Linked DNA regions of Homo sapiens: regions 1 and 3 are each reported to be linked to region 2. The links are microRNA targets in miRTarBase. Many come from high-throughput screens and were not tested one by one. Region 2 holds a microRNA gene; each other region holds the end of a gene's coding sequence.

What was found. Region 2 holds the annotated microRNA hsa-miR-6512-3p (UUCCAGCCCUUCUAAUGGUAGG, at 5,108-5,129, shown strand). A microRNA usually pairs through its seed, bases 2 to 8, with sites in the 3' UTR of a target mRNA and lowers its output. Matches are read on the target gene's strand: a 7mer-m8 pairs with bases 2 to 8, a 7mer-A1 pairs with bases 2 to 7 and ends in A, and an 8mer does both.
Region 1: miRTarBase lists IMPACT as a target of hsa-miR-6512-3p. Seed matches in the 3' UTR shown: 7mer-m8 at 3,702-3,708.
Region 3: the mRNA of STEAP2 is a reported target of hsa-miR-6512-3p. Seed matches in the 3' UTR shown: 7mer-m8 at 4,532-4,538 and 7mer-A1 at 2,204-2,210.

What each region holds. Positions count from the first base shown.
Region 1 is chr18:24,449,370-24,456,545 of GRCh38, reverse strand. IMPACT (impact RWD domain protein) reads right to left here. Exons shown (of 11, transcript NM_018439.4): 10 at 6,593-6,727; 11 at 3,015-5,767. The coding sequence ends at 5,699. Among named protein-coding and RNA genes, the nearest start is that of HRH4, 7.7 kb to the left of the region's middle.
Region 2 is chr2:177,311,754-177,318,939 of GRCh38, reverse strand. It overlaps MIR6512 (microRNA 6512), which reads left to right and starts at 5,058; the gene lies at 5,058-5,134. All of the region lies in intron 6 of LOC100130691 (Putative uncharacterized protein FLJ44553), which reads left to right.
Region 3 is chr7:90,231,927-90,239,132 of GRCh38, reverse strand. STEAP2 (STEAP2 metalloreductase) reads right to left here. Exons shown (of 6, transcript NM_001244944.2): 6 at 1,450-6,796. The coding sequence ends at 6,509. It overlaps LOC107986819 (a long non-coding RNA gene), which reads left to right. Exons shown (of 2, transcript XR_007060423.1): 2 at 1-1,546. Among named protein-coding and RNA genes, the nearest start is that of CFAP69, 9.6 kb to the left of the region's middle. RefSeq lists a silencer at 4,368-4,573.

The DNA of each region.
Region 1 (7,176 bases), not on the chromosome of region 2:
ACCAGGGCTACCATTAAGAATCCCAAAATCCACGTCGGGCATGGTGGCTCACGCCTGTAATCCCAGTACTTTGTGAGGCCAAGGCAGGCAGATTGCAAGGTCAGGAGATTGAGACCATCCTGGCTAACACGGTGAAACCCTGTCTCTACTAAAAATACAAAATTAGCCAGGCGTGGTGACATGCACCTGTAATCCCAGCTACTTGGGAGGCTGAGGCAGGAGAATCGTTTGAACCCGGGAGGCGGAGGTTGCAGTAAGCTGAGATCACACTACTGCACTCCAGCCTGAGTGACAGAGTGAGACTCCATCTCAAAAAAAAAAAAAGAATCCCAAAATCATATAATATTCCAAAACAAGGTAATATATATATTAATTTGAACCTAAATGCAAAAATTCCAAAGAGATTGATGGTATGGATTATCTGTTCCCTGCACTTTGCCAAGCTGGGGCTGACTATGCAAATGTTTTGTTGCTTCATGGAAGGATAGTACCCTTTCTTCATATTTATCCAGTGTGATCCCCTATTATTGGGAATGACCCCAAAGGGAAACCCTGGAATATCTCATCTTGCTACCAAAAATATGGGCTAGTCCAGTGACAACCAGTGGGACCTACTTTAGAGGGAAAGGTTTGGATTTAAATTAATGATAAAAGGAAGAAAGGTGAAATTGTTGCTGAGGGAAGGGTAGTTACAAAAGGGAAAATCTAATATAATTTTGGTGCCTTGAGAGAATCTCAGAGCAAAAGAATAATATTCTCTTTTAACTTTCACTCAGTGCCCCTTGCAGTAAAGGATTCAGTTTTCCAAAACCTCTTTCTGAAGAATCAAGAAGTAAGCAGTACAGAAGCCAACTCAATGAATGAAACATACACTTCTGAGAGTGGTCTTCATCCTCAAAATGGATGAGCAGATAGCAACTCTGACTACAACTATCTGGAACAATACAGATATGACTATGTCCTTTGGTTTCCATTTCATAGGATAGAGCTATGGTTGAAAACCTGAATTGGGAAGCAAACTACGGAATACATATCCAGTTGAATCTGGAAAACACTGATTACCATTAGTCTAAATGAACATTGTGTAACCATTGATTGTGATAATGAAAGTTTAAAGAAGGTACTGGGATATGATGGAAGACGTTCATCTTCAGCATGTCCCATCTGTCAAAACATTATGTACAAAAATAGCTCTTGTTCCTGTTATTGGGGATGGAAAGCCATAAAGAGATGGAGGAACAATTGAGATACTTGGATCACTGAGAAAGGAAAATGATGAAATCTAATTTGCAGGCTCAAGTACTGAGAATGAAAAATCAGGAATTCTATGTGGATGGGTATGGGAAGCATTATGGTATACCCAAATCAAAGTCCATTTAGAGGCCAGGCACAGTGGCTCTCGCCTGTAATCCCAGCACTTTGGGAGGCCGAGGAGGGTGGATCACTTTAGGTCAGGGGTTCAAGGCCAGCCTGGCCAACATAGTGAAAGCCAATCTCTACCAAAAATACAAAAATTAGCCAGGCCTGGTGGCACGTGCCTGTAGTCTCAACTACTCATGTGGCTGAGACATGAGAATCACTTGAAGCCAGGAGGTGGAGGTTGCAGTGAGCCAAGATCATTTGAGCTCAGGAGACAGAGACCAGCCTGGGCAACATGGTGAAACCCCATCCCTACAAAACATATAAAAATTAGCCTGGTGTGGTAGCATGCACCTGTAGTCTCAGCTACTCGGGATGTTGAGGTGGGAGGATCGCTTGAGCCAGGGAAGTCAAGACTGCAGTGAGCCATGATCAGGCCACTGCACTCCAGCCTGGGCAACAGAGCAAGACCCTGTCTCAAAAAAAAAAGTTCAATTTACAAAAACTAGTCACTTCCATAACTGGACATCCATAAGCAAAAAACAAAACAAAAAAAACTTTGACTTTAATCTCACACCTTATGTAAAAACTAAAAATGGAAAATAGATCTACAAGAAAAACACAAAATGATGTAACTTTAAAAACAGAAGAAAATCTAGACCTGGGGTTAGGCAAAGTCCTTAGATGTTGCATCAAAAAGAATGATCCAAAAAAGAGGAAAAAAAAAGATAATTAGATCTCATCAAAATTAACAACTTTACTCTGCAAAATACACTGCTAAGAGAATGAAAAGACAAGCCACAGACTGGGAGAAAATATTTGGAAATCATTTATCTGATAAAAGAATCGTAATCAAACTATTTCCTGGTTTTGCAATTTTACTATAGTTATACTACTGTCAGTGGAGGCTCAGTGATGGGTACACAGGACCTACTATTTTTGTAACTTCTTGTGAGGCTACAATTATTTCAAGGCAAGAAGGTTGTTTTTTTTTTTTTTGAGATGGAGTTTCACTCTTGTCGCCAGGCTGGAGTGCAAAGGCACGATGTGGGCTCACTGCAATCTCTGCCTCCCGGGTTCAAGTGATATTCCTGCCTCAGCCCCCCTGAGTAGCTGGGATTACAGGTGCCCGCCACCACACCCAGCTAATTTTTTTTGTATTTTTAGTAGAGACAGGTTTGACCATGTTGGTCAGGCTGGTCTCAACCTCCTGACCTCAAGTGATCCGCCTGCCTCAGCCACCCAAAATGCTGGGATTACAGACGTGAGACACTGTGCCTGGCCAAAAAGTTTACTTTTTTAAAAAGGATCTTGGGAGTTATCAAGCAAACTGCCTATTTTTTCCCATCTTTGGCTGGTATTAAATATTCCAACACAATATTAATGGAGCAATCACTGATAACACTTTCCTGGATGACAATCTGACTCAACTAATCAAAAGCTATTAGAATGTACAAACCTTGACCAAGAAATTCGATATCTAGGAGCTTTTCCTAAAGAAATAATCAAAGATACATACAAAAATCTGCAAATGATGTAGGTTTTCACAGTTGTTTATAACAGTGAAAAGTTGAAAAAAACTTAAAAATTGGAAATAAGTGGAGGACTAGTTAGTATAATACTGAGAAGACAGAATACAATGCAGTCATAAGACATTTAAGCCATAGAAGAATATTTATTGACATGGAAAATGTTAACAATATACTTCTATATGAAATATGTAGGCTACAAAACAGTATATACAGTTTAATACCATTTTTATGGAAAGAAAAATAACCATATATACAAAATCATGCATAAGAAAAAAATAATATAAGGATGTACATACCAAATATTAATAATAATGGCTATCTCTGGATAGTGGAATCAGAGGGATTATGTAATTTTCCCGATAAATTTTCCTGTCCTCCAAACAGCATCCGCTTCATACTATTATTTCTTGGTTGTAATTAGTTTGATATAATTCTCTTCAGAAAGGCTCTGTTTCACTATATATACCTCAAAGCATACTTTTGATGCAGCTTCTGCAATTCCCATCTAAAAAGTAGATAACACTTGCTCTTATATTCTGGCATATGAAGACTATTTGTAATTAACACACTATAAAATATGTCAAAGCAGGCCAGGCATGGTGGCTCACACCTGTAATTCCAAAACCTTGGCAGGAAGATCGATTGAGGCCAGGAGCTCAAGACGAGCCTGGGCAACATAGAAAGACCCTATCTTTACAAAAAAAACTTTAAAAATTAGCCAGGTGTAATAGCACATGCCTGTCTGTAATCCCAGCTACTTGGCAGGCTGGAAGGTCAAGGCTGCAGTGAGCCATGATCATGCCACTGCACTCCAGCCTAGGTGACAGAGCAAGAACTCATCTCTAAAAAAAAATTTTTAAATAAAGCAAAATATGCCACAGCATAGATCTGATTGTAGAAAATTATTATATGGAGAACTGAAAAATCTCCTAATCAAGACAAAAATTTTAAATAGAGGAAAAAAATACTATCTATCATTAGTTCAAGTTTCCATTAAGAGTAGAGTGTGAAGTAGCTCCAAGTTCAGAGCTGGAGAATTTTGCATCTCTCCCTCTTACCAGCCAATTGACTTTAGGTAAAGAATACTAGAGTTTTTTAGTTAGTAAAATATAGTTAATAATTCTGTATAAAGGAGCAAAAGTAAGTTTCTCATTGTTTCCTATCTCCCTTCATAGGTTTGACATGTTGAAATTGTGAAATTATTTAATGTTAATAGTTTTTAACTTCTTTAATTATGTAAAATAATTAATTTTTAAATTATTTTAACAGTTAAAACACAAAGCATACTTTTCATGGAACCAAGTGTTCCAAACACAAAAAGGTCATTCTCTGATGGCTCCTGATAACATACAACATAAAATATAGTTATAACAAATATAATTTAGAATTTATATTTCAGAATCCATCCTGGTGTAAAGCTATTTACTATAACCTTACTAAAAATACCAACGGTAAGGATGTTGGATCTTTTAAAGGTAAAACATCAGAGAAAAGAGAAAAAGACCTGTTTGTCCAATTCTCTGTGCTTTCCATGCTCTAGCACCATCCCAAAGTTGCCTCCTAACTTCTGTTCCCTCCCTGGGAAGGGAAGTCCAGGCAAATCTGTGATCAGTTAATAACTTTTAACAATTGTTTGCCATTACATCTGAAAGTGAACAGTTAATCACTTATTGTTATATCTCAAAGGTAAATTTCACTATCTAAATGCCTAGAGGTAACTGGAAGATGAAAGATACATAAAGGTTTGATGAATAGAGGGGAAAAAATGGGGGGGAGGGTTGTTTCTGTTTTTCCAATGAAAAGGTTTGCTCCTTCTCTCTGCAAAATCTTGGAACTGAGAAAGCCGTCTGGAGTGCAGATGGAAAGCATGCATCAAATTGATGTAACTACACAACATACTCCTGCCCTACACCAGGTTCATTCTGCCACCTCTATCCCACTCTACGAATGTCCCATTTGCCACAGCCTAACTTCTATCATAGTTCTAATTCCTCAGTGAAGATCACAAGAAAGGTACTTCCAGGTTGTTAAAAGAAACGAGAATGTTACACCAACACATTTCTGGGGTGGAAGGAGACTACTGACACTCCATATTTATTGCTTACATTACAAGAATTAAACAAAAAAAGCAGACTAGAAAATCACTTTCTGTAATTTCACAATCACCAATTTGCAACAGAAACTGAAGCATAATATTTATGCTAACAAATATGTTGGATGAATTATCACCTCAGCACATAACTGCAGATGGATACTCCTGGATTTTCACTTAATCCATTACTCAATGATGAACACTATAAAATGAAAGGTGACATACTTATGAACTAAAATCACAAGAAGAAACTCTCCAAGATCAATCTTAAATGAGCTCCTATTCCAATAAGCCATAAAGAGCAGTAAAAGGCAATATTCATTTAACAGTACAAGAATCTCGATGACAAGAAATCAGGTATTTATATTCCTCTAGAGACATTTCTTCTCCACCTAACAAAGGCACTTGACATGTACTGAAATGGACAGTTAATTCAGGTACTGCCCTGGGCAACTGTTACCTTGCTAAAATTAGATGAAGTGGTGATTAAGTTCAAATTAGTTCTCCCAAATAAGCCTGAAACACACATGAATAGATCATAAGTTCTCTATTTTTGGCAGATGATATAACCAAGAAGAAAAGCTAATGTTGGTATCCATGCTGAACTGGCTGACTTAAGCAGTCAAGGATACTCTCTCTGCACAATATATTCCTTGATGACTATGGAATGTATATATAATTATAGGCAAATTAACCTTTCCTATAGTTTCAGGTATTAATGTTCATTCCTCTTCTTGTCTTTTCTTACTTTTTTGTTCTTTCCCAAAGCCTTAGATGACTCCTCCTGAAAAAGACACAAATCAGTGCAGCATCTCTCCATTTACATAAAGATGAAATCTTCAATCTAATCACTTAGAATATATTTACACATATATATTCCACATATATTCATACATATATGTATGTATGTATATATGTTACAGTGAGGGTATAATCACTTTTATATGTGTCATTTCTGTGTTTTAAAGGGTACTTTCACTTATAGGCTAATATTTTTTAAACAATCAAGAATAATCAAGGAAACCTTATTTATCTAGTGGATTTATGTTTGAATAATTTCAAAATTATTTCATCTATTGCCCCACTTTCCCAAGGCAGTAAAATTTAAATAAGGCAGATATGAACATACCTAAAATATAAAACAAAATAAACTCAAAGTATAAAGGAAGAAAGCATCTAAAGGTATGCCAGTGAAGGGGGAGATGTTTTGACACTAACAGAGAATTTCAGAATTTTCTAGATGTTTAAAGAACATCTAGTCTGATGTGATATCAGCTACAACCACTCTGGGGCTCAATTTTAGGGATGGAACCTAGTTGGTCTTAAAAGGTTTTTCTAATTATAAAATTCTATGAACCTATGAAATCAAGGTGCGAAGGGATGAAGTGGTCTGTCCTATGAAATCAAGGTGCGAAGGGATTAAGTGATCGGTCCAAAGTCACGTGACTGGCCAGACACACTGTTTAGAGTCTAGGTCTCCAGGTTCTGAGTCCAAAGGTTTTACCAATTCACCACTCACATTCTGATTCATTCTTAATTTTCTGTCTTTTTAAAAAATTCCCAGGCAGTGATGAGAAATTCTCTAGATGTAGTACGAAGAGCCACTTACAGGTGAATTTGTGTAGTTCTTTTCCACTAGTATGTTTCTGGCACAGTTGTTGATATGTTTAAAGCGATCTGGTCCTAGCAGAATCCCTCCATACCAGCGTGATACTACCACCATGACATTCTTCACATTCAAAATCTGTTATTTTTTGGAAGCATAATTAGATACATAGACAGACATGTATAAATATGAGTTTTAAAAAAGGAGAATGAAATAACCCATGTATAAAATTGCACATAAAATTTCCCAGTGACTTTAATGGTAGAGCCATATGAGTGAGTAGGCACTGAGTGAGATTACTAACAATTCAGGGAGTGAAATGGAAGAACAGAAGGGAATCTGGAAAACCATCACTGTGTTTCACAATGTCCTCAAACTCCCAGATTTGGGGCAACTGGACAGAGTGAAGGGGAGACCATGCAAGTAGGATTCTAGCACCTGGTGACTTCAACCAGAACAGCTAAGTTTAGGCAGCATTTTACCACTAGGCCAAATAACAACAAAAAAAACCCTGCTTCTGAACAAAGCTACAGGGGCTGCACGAGGCATCAATATCCCTGGTGCTATTAGTAAGGTTTCATCAGTTG
Region 2 (7,186 bases):
TATTTCCTCCCATTCTGTAGGTTTCTTGCTGGTGTCCTTTTAGGAATAGAAGTTTTACGTTTTGATGAAGTCAAGTGTGTATGTTTTCTTTTGTTGCTTGTGTGTTTGATCTCATATCAAAAAACCATTGCACAATCCAAGGCCACAAAGAGTTATGTCTATGTTTTCTAGATTTTTATCATTTTAGTGCTTACATTTAGGTCTTTGATCTTTTTGTGTTAATTTTTTATATTGGGTGTGAGGTAAAAATCCAACTTCATTCTTTTGCATGTGATATCCAATTATCCAGAACCACTTGTTGAGAAGGCTAGTTCTTCCTCACTGGATTATCTTGGCACCCTTGTCAAAAATAAGTTGACTGTAGATGTGAAGGTGTATGAGTTGCTAAAATACCTCTTCTGTGATATTTATAATTTATTTTCTAAAAGGATAAGTTATAGGTCACATCTCAGATTACAATGATTCAAGTCAAAAAGTTCAAAGTAGAATTTACTTTCAAAATTGTTTGTTCCCCCAGAGCTAGTTAATGCCCCCAGAGCTAGTTAATAAACTCTATTTGCAGATAAAAGCATGCTTTCCCTTCAAAGGTATTTCACCAAGACGGGAAACACAAAACTAAATAAGCTGGGAAACTGAGGATACACAGAGGGTCTCCTTAATCTCTGGATATGTGGTCTAATGTATCCTTTTTGTGCTCATTTTTTCCCTTTTATCCAGAAATACAACATTACCTTTTTATAAAATTCCTGGAGATTGATCATATCTCTAGTGTTTGGGTCTAGAATGTATTTTTTGGCCAAAACATCTCTTTACCCCACTTCCACATGTGGAAAGAAAGAAAACATGGTACTCTAATCTCACAAGTGAGGCATGGGGTTGTTTCCTGAAATGAGGCAAGGACTTTGGACAAGAACATGTTTGGACTTGAGATGGTTTTTGTAAACCCAAATGATATTAGTTCTAGTCTGTCTTTATCGCTCACTGTATTTTGTTTTCATTCATACTAATGAATAATAGACTTGATTGTGTTCCATCATTTATGTCATTAATATTTCCTTTATGTTTGAGTGCTGTGCAGTTCTCCTTGAAACTTGTATGGAGATTGAACTTGATAGTGATTTAAAGTAATTAATTCATATGTCAGTTGTTAGCAAGGTCTAGTAATTAAAATCTACTTTAGAGTAAGTTATTAACTCTCCAAAATAAAAACACTTTATCAACTTACCAGTTTTAGCTATTTATTCTACTTGACAGATGAGATAGGGTAGTTATTGACTGTACATAATCACCTATGTACTTTCACCACTGAACACTAGGGTCAAATTGAAGTCTAGGTTATTAAAGTTCATAGTTTAAATCTAGAATAAACCAGTTCAGGTTGATGGGAGAAGGAAGAGAGTGTCCTTGGATCTTGTTATCTTTGCAATATTGTCTCCTTAAATTTTGCAAAGTCCATTTTTGCTGTCTTCAAAATTCTCAAACTTCTAAACTAAAAACACCCTAGACCAAGGATTTCATATTGAGATCTAAGATATCAAAGTGCTATATTGTTTATGATTTATTTTATAATGCTTTTTAGTAAAACAAACTTTAGATGCCATGATTTCCTTGTGAACAGGCTGGAGGGAAGAAAACAAGTTACACGTAATGCATGGGACACAAGTGCAGGCCTTTTATTTGCAGGCCTAAACTAGTCACAAGTTTCCATCTTATGAAAGCAAGTTTTCTTTTATTCTGCTTTGTTTTTTGTCTTGATATCTGGTTACATTTATTCAGTTTGAGGGCATCTTATAACGGGCCCTTTACTTCCCTCCATTTGGCTTGTGATGAACTACTACCAAGGTCAATCCAGGTCTGACTCTTTCATGGAGTCAGTGTGGCTGGGGTAGTGTTTCCCAAGCCAAGCTTGTCATCAGAATTACCTGGGGTGGTTTGTAAAGAACTTTTCAGGCCTCATTCCAAACCTACTAAATTTAGATCTCTGGTGTGGAGCCTGTAAATCTGTATGTTTGAAACCTTCCCAAGGTGATTCTGATGTCCAGTCATATTTGGGTCATAGTCCAGAATGCAGTCATGCATTGCTTAATGACAGGGATTTGTTCTGAAAAATGTGTCATTAGGTAATTTCTTCATTGTAGAACCATCATAGAGTGTGATTACACAAACCTAGATGGTATAGCCTACTACACACCTAGGCTATGTGGTATAGCCTATTGCTCCCAGGCTACAAACCTGTACAGTATGTTGCTGTACTGAACACTGTAAGTAATTGTAATACAATGGTAAGTATGTGTGTATCTAAATATATCTTAACATAGAAAAGGTGCAGTAAAAATACAGTATTCAAATCTCATGAAACCACCATCATATAAGAGGTCCGTAGTTGAACTGAAATGTTGTTGTGTTGCCCATGATTGTACTTGGATTTCAGGACTCTGCAGATGCTTGGAGGTCTTATGGGTTTGGCCATGGGGTATTGCCTCTGAGAAACTGCCATCTGCTTGCCAGAGATTCTGAAAAGACCAGAGTTGCCTATTTGCAGTCTGTTCTTCAAGACTATCTACTATGTTGGCAAAAAGGCCTAGGTTTCTTCTCTGTCCATTCTCAATCCCTCAATCTGTCCTTGTGACTTACTTGCTCCTTCAAGCTGCCCAGTAGTGGCGCTGGTGAAAATAAAATAGACTTTGGTCCTACAGACCTGTCATGGACTCTCAGCTCAGCCTCTTCTATGTGTGCCATTTGCCTCATCTGTAAATGTAGTTAATATTGTCCTCTCAAAGATGTTAGGAAAACCAGAAGAATGTATTTATGTAACACCTAGAACAAGTATACCCTGCATTAGGCATTATTTGTTTGGTTTTACCTGTCCATCTCAATGAACATGCTGGGTTAATGAAGTGTGTTCATCAATTTTCCCTGATCGTAGCCTTTTAGATTGCTCTGGGCAGTGTTTCTCAAAGTAGGAGACACAGACCACCTACCTGTGATTGACAGGAGGACAGAAATCTGCTCTAATGCACTCTAACCTTCTGCACTTTTCACTTTTTATTGAAATATACATATAGAAAGGTGTATTTATTGTAAGTGAACAGCTCAGTGGCTTTTCCTAAACTGAACACACCCATGTAACCAGCACCCAGATCAAGAAACAGAACATTACCAGCACCCCCGAAGCCTCCTCTGCAGGCACACTTTAAGAACCACTGGTCTAGGAAGAGCCCAGCTGGGGCACTGTCCTAAACCACCGTCCCGCCTTTACCTAGCAGGCCAAATCTGCATGCAGTGTCAGCTATTCCCAATCTGAGAGGCTGGGCCTATAGCCTCACATACACCCTTCATAGTGATGCAACTTCATTTGTAAAAAGGGTCACAAAGGGTGTTTCTATAATTTATATTCCTAGCATACACCCTAAACTGCTTAAAGCAAATGAATTCAGGTCCCAGCCAAAAAGGAGTGGAGACCAGTCACTGCCTGAAAGCATTGGCTTATTACAACACTCCAGCATTTTCTCACGGCAGGGTGAATGAGGTGGATTCTAGTGTAATTACCTTTATGTAATTGAAAACTAAATCACCGATGGCTGCAGAGTTTAAATATCCATTTAAATACTTTCAATTTATTCAGCTTATTTTTTCAGGACATGCTACTACCAAATAGGCTATTAATTTTTCTAATGGATTAAAATCTGAATAGGTACATTAAAAACTAGCATAGCTCAAATAAATGTCCTCTTTTTCCAAAGATTATTAAAGAGAGTTTTCTTTTTCTTTAACCCAGCTATTCAAATACTCTATTAGACCAGGACCTGTAATAATACAGGCCTTGTCCAGAAGGGATCAGGTTTCTATGTTATATAATTAGGCAAGACTTTAAATAGTAAGACATGCACCTGTGGTGCTTTTGTCTCTAACTCCACAAATTTCAACATGCATACAAATCAAGAAGGGGTGGGGGTGTTACATGCAAATTCTGCTTCAGTGGGTGTTGGAGCCTGAGATTCTGGCTTTCTAACAAGCTCCCAGGTAAGTGCTGATGCTGCTGCTTTGAGGGCCACACACCTTGAGGAGTAGGAAGAGTACTCATACTGGAAGAGTATTCAGCACGGACTGGAATCCTGCATACATATCTGAGCTCTGTGTTCTGGTATGTATATAGACTTTTTAAAAAAATTAGTAGAGATGGGGTCTCACCATTTTGGCCAGGCTGGTCTCAAACTCCAGGGCTCAAGAGATCCTCCTGCCTTGGCCTCCCAAAGTGCTGAGATTACAGGCATGAGCCACTATACCTGGCTTATATAGACTGCTTCTAAGGTCCATTCTAACTGTACAATTCCATGATTCAGTCACTGTTTGGCTATTAACTAATTTTTTTAGGCTTCTGATTCTCATTGTTTATAAGCTGCTATATTAGAGAATGTTCTGTACTGGAAGGCCAGATAAAAAGTCTTACTTATGGCCAGTAAGTTTTATTTTTCAATCTTCTACAAGTCTGCCTCAACCCATGGGAAATCTTGGCTAATAGTAACATGATACTGGGCTTGGACCATAAACTAAACTTGAGTCAGCAATGTAGGGCTTTGGTTAGATAAGCAAGAATGAACTTGGGAATATAACCAAAAGAAAGGGACAGCTAATCCTACCAGAACAGGCAGTATTTATATGAATACTTTTTTCAAATATCCACAACTGGGAAAAGCTGCTGAACACATAAAGAAAAGTTAAAAGCACGGCATTATTTAGCTAGTGAAAAGAGAACAAAGAATGCCTTAAGAATAATTTTTGAATGGCAGCAGAAACCAGCATATCCTGTGAAGTAAATGCATTTTCAGGACCTCAAAATAGATTTAGGTTGCCTCTAAAGCAGAACTTTCCCATGATAATGATGATCCTAGGTGGTAGGATTGCCAATGGTAATTTTCTTTCCCAAAGATTCTTACAACCAACCATAAACCTACTAGATAACCTATCAGTTGTGTTATTAACTGATATATCAGTTGGGGTTCAGTGCAGACACTTCTCTAGGTACTGAATGCTAAGAATTATATGCTTAAAAATTATATGCTCTTACCATTAGAAGAGCTGGAAGAAGGCTGAGGGAGATGCCTTCTTCCAGCCCTTCTAATGGTAGGAGCATTAAGAGGGATGCTGTTGGGCTCGCAGTTCAGTCCACACAGCTACAATCTAGAGGTCAGGAAGCTATAAAGTCCACTGCTGGCATCACAGTCATTTCTCACAGATGAAGTTAGTGGCAATGCAGAGGCACAGAAAGTCTGGTCATTAAAAACCACATTTAATGTTGCACGTACATCAACAACTACCAGTGAAAACTAATAGGCAGCCAGGCATGTTGGTGCATGCCTGAAGTCCCAAACATTTGGGACACTGAGGTGGGAGGATCCTTGAGCCCAGGAGGTCTAGGCTGCAGTGAGTTGTGATTGTGCCACTGTACTCCAGCCTGGACAGAACAAGAATCTTTCTCAAAAAATAAATAAATAGAGAGAGAGAAGGAGGGAGGGAAGGAGGAAGGTAAAAAGAGAGAGAGAGAAAGGAAGGAAGGGAAAGAAGAGGAAGGAAGGAAGGAAGGAGAAGAGAAAGAAAAGGAAGGAAGGAAGGAAGGAGAAAGAGAAAGAAGGAAGGAGAAAGAAGAGAAAGAAAAGGGAGGAAGGAAGGAAGGAAGGAAAACTAATAGGCAGGGGAAATAGCCTCTCTCTTCCTTTTACCTTTCTAATTTCGCATCATTATATCTGACTGGCACAGTTTAAATTGTTTAACAAATCCTATTAGCAGCTCAGCCTAGAATTATAGTTATTGAGCTTTGTTCCTAACTCAGTATAAATCTATCTTTATTGAAGTATAGCATACAGACAGAAAAATGCACAAATTATAATCAGAGAGCTTGATGAATTTTCATAAAGTAAACACACCTACATATTGCTAGCACCCAGATTGGGAGGCAGAAACTACTACCATACCAGAAGCTCCCTTCATTATCTTTTCTAGGCATTATCCTCCCTCAAATTGACTGTAATCTTGGCTTCTAATACCCTAGACCAATTTGGCCTATTTTTAAACATTAGACAAAATGGAATGATACAGTGTGTATTATTTTATTACTGGCTTTTCCTACTCAACTATTTGTGAGATTCATTCATGTTGAGAGTAATAATAGTATCTTCATTTTCATTGCTGTGTAGTATTCCATTGTATGAATATAACACAATTTATACGTTCTACCAAAGATGGACATTTGGGTTGTTTCCAATTTGAGATTACTGCAACTAGTGCCACTGTGAACATTGGTGAACACACACACACACACATATTTCAGTTGGATATATAAAAGTGTAATTTCTCTGATGCATGGGGTTCAGCTTGAGTAGTACTGCCCAACAGTTTTTCACATCTTCATCAAAACTTGATCTTTTCCATCTTTTAAATTTTAGCCATTCTCTTCAAAGACTAATGCAGTGTATTGAATCTCATTGTTGTTTTCATTTTTCTGATATCAAATAAACACCTTTTTAATTGTTTATTGGCCATTTGGGTACCCTCTTCTGTGAAATGCCTATTCATGTGTTTTGTGTGATTTTCTATGGGCTTGTCTGCCTTTTCTTGTTTTTATAGTCCTTTATTCTGGATATGAGTCCTTTGTCGGGTATATGTATTGATAATATCTTTTGCCACTATGTGGCTTTTTGTTTTTTGTTTTTTTTTTTTGAGATGGAGTCTTGCTCTGTCACCCAGGCTGGAGTGCAGTGGCGTGATCTCGGCTCACTGCAAGCTCCTCCTCCCGGGTTCACGCCATTCTCCTGCCTCAGCCTCCCAAGTAGCTGGGACTACAGGTGCCCGCCACCATGCCCAGCTAATTTTTTGTATTTTTAGTAGAGACGGGGTTTCACCATGTGAGCCAGGATGGTCTCAATCTCCTGACCTTGTGATCTGCCTGCTTCGGCCTCCCAAAGTGCTGGGATTACAGGCGTGAGCCACTGTGCCCAGCCCACTCTGTGGCTTATTTTATTCACTCTTTTAATAGTGTATTTTGAAGAAGACATTCATAATTTTGAATTAGTTTAGTTTATCAGATGTTTTCCTTTATGGCTTATTTATTTTGTGTGTCTCCAGTTTAAGAAATCTTTGTGGATTCCAAAATCGTGAGTATTCTTCTGTTTTCTTGTGAAACTGTTAT
Region 3 (7,206 bases), not on the chromosome of region 2:
GGGAGTTAGGATTTCAATGTATCAATTTTGAGGAAACACAGTTCAGCCCATAACAGATCCCAGTATCTTTTGAATTATAACTTCAATTCTTATAAACAGCAGATTCAAGAATAAAGTATGTTTAATCAAGGCACAAATGGTATTCTCGCCTACAGGACACTGATATTTCACACAGTAGTGCTGAGTTACTATTTTGATTTAACAGTGTATGACTGTACATTTGATCAATGTGAATCTGCCCCTGAGGGGTTTTTCTACTCTCAGGGGTCTCAACAAATCTGGATTTTGAGTCTGCAGGGTCCCGTGCCTGACTTTCTCAAAGTCATCATTTGTCTCTTGTTTCACTTCCCATTAGAAGAATCCACTACCAAAAGTACTGTACTAGTCTAGGTTCCCCAAGCCTGCCATAAACAAACAACACCAACACTCACCTGCTGCCACTCTATGGGGAGTACTATCTCTGAGAAACAGAAGTGAGGAAAAACATGGAAGTGAGGCAGTAGGAGAAGGGAACACAAACACAGGTGTTAGTGAGCTTGTCATAGCTTTGCAACAAGTGCAGTTAATTGCTCGGTCTTTGAGGATATTTTCATGAAGGTCTTATGAATTATTGCACTTTAGAACAGCCTATCTGGGGGAAAGGAAGGGAGAATTTATCTACTAGCTTCATTTTGTGCTGTACCTCCTTGATCAAAGTTCACTCCTTAAGTAGGGTTGCCAGATTTAGAAAAATTTTAAAAAGCCCATGCTTATAATAAAAAGTAATTTATTGTTTGTCTGCAATTCAAATTTAACTGAGAGTCCTGTATTTTACCTGACAATCCTCCTCTCAGGATATTAGCACCTAAGCATTTCCAGGCAGCAGCTGGGGAAGCCAGAACCTCCACAGACAGATCTGGTGCACAGGCACAAAGGTCAGTTACTCCTTGTCAGTGGCACAGTGTACAGGACTCCTCAACATATAGCAGTGTGGTGGTGGTGGTAGTGGCAGCAGCAGCAGAAACTCTTTAGGACAACAGGGTAGCGCTAGGCCACTGGCCAGGAGGCAAGGCATGAGGAAGAGGCAAGAGGATGTAGGCATGGCTGCATGGATGCGGGATGATAAAAAACATAATTTTCTGTAAAAATGGGTAATTATTTATTATAATATCTCTTTAGTATCCATCATAGATCACATTATACTAGATACTGGGGATTTAGTAGTAAATAAGACAAAATTTCTGCTACGGGGAGTTTACAGAATAGCTTGAATATTGTGTGTGTTCTGATTTAAAGATGCTTAATGAATGCTAGTAAAATGAAATAATGTAATAAAATAAATGTAAATGGAGGTTTTTCTAAATGACTATTTTAGTAAAAACAAACAAAACCCCTCCATAACTATCACATGTATTGCTTTCTGGATGCTTCTGAAAAGAAATAACTCAGAAAAGTATTAGAAGGCCTCCATCAAATACTAGAATTATTATTTAATGAGAAAAAAATCCACGTGTATACAACATTTCAAAACAGAAGTTAAATCATTAAATAGTACTTTTTATTTAAATGTTTATAAGGCAGATCTATGAGAATGATAGAAAACATGGTGTGTAATTTGATAGCAATATTTTGGAGATTACAGAGTTTTAGTAATTACCAATTACACAGTTAAAAAGAAGATAATATATTCCAAGCAGATACAAAATATCTAATGAAAGATCAAGGCAGGAAAATGAGTATAACTAATTGACAATGGAAAATCAATTTTAATGTGAATTGCACATTATCCTTTAAAAGCTTTCAAAAGAAAGAATTATTGCAGTCTAGTTAATTCAGACAGTGTTAAATGGTATCAGGATAAAGAACTGAAGGGCAGAAAGAATTAATTTTCACTTCATGTAACACACCCAGATTTACAATGGCTTAAATGCAGGAAAAAGCAGTGGAAGTAGGGAAGTAGTCAAGGTCTTTCTGGTCTCTAATCTGCCTTACTCTTTGGGTGTGGCTTTGATCCTCTGGAGACAGCTGCCAGGGCTCCTGTTATATCCACAATCCCAGCAGCAAGATGAAGGGATGAAAAAGGACACATGCTGCCTTCCTTTGAGGAGACTTCATCTCACTGGCCAACACTCAGTCACATGTACACCTAACTGCAAGGACAGCTGAGGAATGTAATGGGCAGCCGCTTTTAAAGAAGTAGAGTCAATAGGAAGACAAATTCCAGTTCCAGCTCAGTCTGGGTATCTGCAAAGCTGCAAAAGATCTTTAAAGACAATTTCAAGAGAATATTTCCTTAAAGTTGGCAATTTGGAGATCATACAAAAGCATCTGCTTTTGTGATTTAATTTAGCTCATCTGGCCACTGGAAGAATCCAAACAGTCTGCCTTAATTTTGGATGAATGCATGATGGAAATTCAATAATTTAGAAAGTTAAAAAAAACTCAGTATGTTAGGCTGAACAAAACATTTTTTAGTAACATATGGAAAGAATCTCTGAAAATTAAGCACTGTATAATTTTCTCATACTAAAAAAAAAGTGAAGAACCCATTCATTCATGTAAAATTCACTGTTTAAAGGTAAAAACAGATTGAGTTTCCACTGAAATTATTACAGTTTCATTTAGGGCTAATCATTTGTCCTGAATGTACATCAGAATTTGTTTTACCCACTGATGAACAATTGAAGGTAGGGTGTCTCATTTCACAATATAAATCTTAACACTGTGAGGTGTGTTATACTATGTATGTATCTTGTTTTAAGTCATGGATTTACAAAATAATTTCAACACATTTTAGGCTGTTTACGTATTTCAAAACAGGGATTTCATAGACTGACACAGGAATAATTAGTTCAGTGTTCACAGTATTCCTAAATAAATATTTACTTATTACATTTATGATACTTTATTTAAAATACCACATTAGAAACTTTAAATATTTCATAAATAAATCTCTTTTTTGGGGGGAAACTGTACAGAATTTATTATGAAATAGCTTAATGGCAAGTGGTAATTTAGAAGAATTAAGTTATCAGATAGGAGATATATTAAAATATTTAAAAATTGGATATATTCTTGAAGCCCTTTTACACAAGTAATTTCTATAATTTGATTGTAATGAAAGTATAATATACCTTGTTACTATTATCAGATTAATTTTTGAAAGTAGAATTCCTTAATCAAGCCAAGGTTATGCTGCTTTATAAGAAATTAATCAGGTAGTTTAACACTAGAGCTCATTAGCCAACCTGTATGTAGCACAAAATAATCATCTCTGATAAATACCTATAAATATATTTTATTCATACTTTTAAATATTTTACAATTCAAATAAAAACCTTATATGTAGACAATCTGGGCTAAATTTCCATGTATGTTTTGAAAAATAATGTTAGCATGAATAGATTCATATTTAAATATGATTTTAAATACTCTTAATAGAGGAGACATAAGAAATATTTACATAAAAGCTAAGTAGCATGATACAGCTCATGGTTATTTTCCTCATAGGAAAACAATTACTTGATTTTTTTTTTTGCATAGGATTAAGACTGAGTATCTTTTCTACATTCTTTTAACTTTCTAAGGGGCACTTCTCAAAACACAGACCAGGTAGCAAATCTCCACTGCTCTAAGGTTCTCACCACCACTTTCTCACACCTAGCAATAGTAGAATTCAGTCCTACTTCTGAGGCCAGAAGAATGGTTCAGAAAAATAATGATTATAAAAAATAACAATTAAGAAAAATAATCACATAGAGGTAAAATAAAGCAACTAAACATCATAGTTTTGCATTTTTAGAAAAGCATTTAAACATTTAGAATTATAGTAAATATATTACATTTATTCTAAAACTTCAAAATTATTCTGTTTTTGTAGTACTGAAAAGAAGATAGTGCCATTTGAAACAACAGATGCATCTTTTATACATTTTCACAAGTTTGTTTTTCATATTTTTAAAGGCCCCATTTATCTGTAACAGTGGTATTTTTATTTAGAGTATCGGCTACTTAATATATACATGCAACAATATATGCTTTAATAGTCATTTAACTTTTAGGAATATTTCATCACATTAAGTGGTTAAGCATAGTGTTAAAAGAGTGGAATTTAAGGAATAAGAAAATATTGAAAATACGCTGTTATTTTCATTAGTTCACTATAATAGAATGTTTTTGCCCATAAAAGTTATCATTGCCCAACTGAATTCCTACCAAGAACTAACAAGTGATTCTCAAGTGGGGAGAAATATTATTAAAATAAAGAAAATAGAGGGCTCAGTTAGAAAGTACAAGATAATAGGCCGGGCGCGGTAGCTCACACCTGTAATCCCAGCACTTTGGAGGCCAAGGCGGGCGGATCACGAGGTCAGGAGATCGAGACCATCCTGGCTAACACGGTGAAACTCCGTCTCTACTAAAAATACAAAAAGAAATCAGCCGGGCATGGTGGCGGGCACCTGTAGTCCCAGCTACTCGGGAGGCTGAGGCAGGAGAATGGCGTGAACCCGGGAGGCAGAGCTTGCAGTGAGCCGAGATCGTGCCACTGCACTCCAGCCTGGGTGACAGAGCAAGACTCTGTCTTTAAAAAAAAAAAAAAAAAAAAAGAGGGTACAAGATAATAAAATTCACCAAGAGAACATTAGAAAATCATAAGTGAATTACCAAACTGACAAGGCAGTTGTAGAAAAAGAGTCACTGGTGGGAAAGGTAGCCTCTACTAAATAAAAGTCTTTTTATTGTTGGCAGTTGGATTCAGTAGTACCTACGTGGGTAAGTTTAGAAATGTTATAATTTCAGGAAGAGGAACGCATATAATTGTATCTTGCCTATAATTTTCTATTTTAATAAGGAAATAGCAAATTGGGGTGGGGGGAATGTAGGGCATTCTACAGTTTGAGCAAAATGCAATTAAATGTGGAAGGACAGCACTGAAAAATTTTATGAATAATCTGTATGATTATATGTCTCTAGAGTAGATTTATAATTAGCCACTTACCCTAATATCCTTCATGCTTGTAAAGTACTCCCTAATGAATGGTTATGCAGGCAGGAGAACTTCTCAGGAAGAGAAAAGGAGAAGACTAACTCTACAGAGATTTTTGAAAGACTCCGTGGGATCTCAGCAATTTGTTAACACTGCTAGGGCCCTTCACTGCATAGGGAGGCATATGGACTGCCATGGGTCTCCAGGCTCATGTTCCAAGCAAGAATAGGGTAAGTAACTGTGAATTACCCTACAAGCAGTAATAAGTTTATTATAATAATATTTTTATACATTTTTGGATGCACCCAACCCACTCTAAAGAATGTCAGTGACTTTATACAAAAGAGGAAGCATCTAGATTGGCATTGTGAACATAATGCATAGGGGCGCGGCGGGAGCTCTAGAGCCTAGTGGTTAAAACCGTGGCCTCTGGAATATGACTACCTGGACTTGAATGCTCACTCTGCCATTTATTAACTGCAAGACCTTTGAAAAATAACTTTTCTATCCTTCGGTCCCTCATGTGTAAAATGAGGATAATAACTACTTATCTCACGGGGTTGTTCTAAGTATTAAATGGGATAATACAAGTAAAGTACTTAGAACCATGCCTAGCACATCAGAATCCCTCAAAGAACATCAGTATAATCCTATACCATAGCAAGTGGTGACTGGTTAAGGTGCGACAAAGGTCAGCTGGCAGATTACTTGTGTGCAAACTTGATACTTTTGTTCTAAGTAGGAACTAGTATACAGTTCCTAGGATTGGTACCGTATTAGAGATAGCAGTTTTGGAAGCCAAATGTTACTGAATCCTCTTCCTGATCAGTATATTAATATGAAAATGAAACTGCTCTGTAACACAATAAAGAATAAAATCTTTCATGAGGTATGTATTATCAGTATGTATTTCATGTCTCAAATATATTTTAAATATAATTTCAGGTTTAATTTGTCTTTTTAATTTGTGTCTCTTCATATAATCACATTGCTTCATACAATTAATTTCATCCTTCAAATCCTATTTTATGAGAGAAATATAGGAATGCTATCATGCAGCCTTACCTAGATGCTAACATAACGTGTCCTTTCTTAAAAAAATGTATAATAATGCATTTCTACTTTTTAAGTTGAATAATTAAAATCTTAATCTTCAGAAAAAAATGTATATCCATTGAATTATTTTAAAAGCTTAAAATTCTGCTGGTTTGCAAATTGTTTTTAACATTATATCTATATTATTAACTGTAAGTATTTTTGCCTGATTATGAAATATAAAGTAACAACAGGGTTACAGTTGTGCAAAACAAAACAAAACATACCTAAATTACAATAATATGTTGACTAGAAAAATTCATATTGGCAAACATGACATTTGTGAAAATTAACTTGAAGAAAACTCTATCACTAAGTCAGTTGAAATCTCATTTAACAAGTTTCAACCCACGATAATTTGACAGCATACTTGTAACTGAACGTAGAAGTCATAAAAATAATGGCATGAGTAGAACTTTATATGGCAGCTGTGAACACCATTTGTCATCACATTACTGTGACCCTCTCCGGGGAGACATGAGGAATTGTTCCTCCCATACCTTCTTCCAGAAATTGGCTCTTTTCCCAGCCTTTTTTAATTCGTTTTAGCTTTCGGCTTATACATGGAAGGAATAAAATAATCTTACCCAGAATTACAATTGAGGGCAAAACAAGAGCAAGAACAAAGTTTGGTGGTGTATAAAATCTGTAGTACTCTTCCTCAAAAGCTCGTTTCCATCCATAAATTAAAACATGGAAAGTACTTATGAGCAGAGCGACATATCCAAGTGTAGACTTGGGCCAGGAGAGGAAGGAAAAGAAACAAAGAATAAGAAACAAATGACTGAAACTCATAAATTAAACTATCAAGATACACCATGTTTATATTTTGATAAAACTATTTTGTCTTAAATTATCAAGTTAACCTTTGTCCTCTACTGAATTAAATAATATTAATATTTTTATATATGCATATATATGTATTATTTATATGCACACCTTATGTTACACAAATAAGGCCCTACTGCATACAGTTTAATATTCTTACTACTTCATTTATTTTATCAAGAACATTTTCCTCATGTCATTAAATATGAAAATGACATTAATACTGTATAATATTCTATTGAATGGATGTGCATAATTTATTAAACCATTCCTTTTTGTTGATAATTCACTGTTTCCAACTTTCCTCAACTATAAAT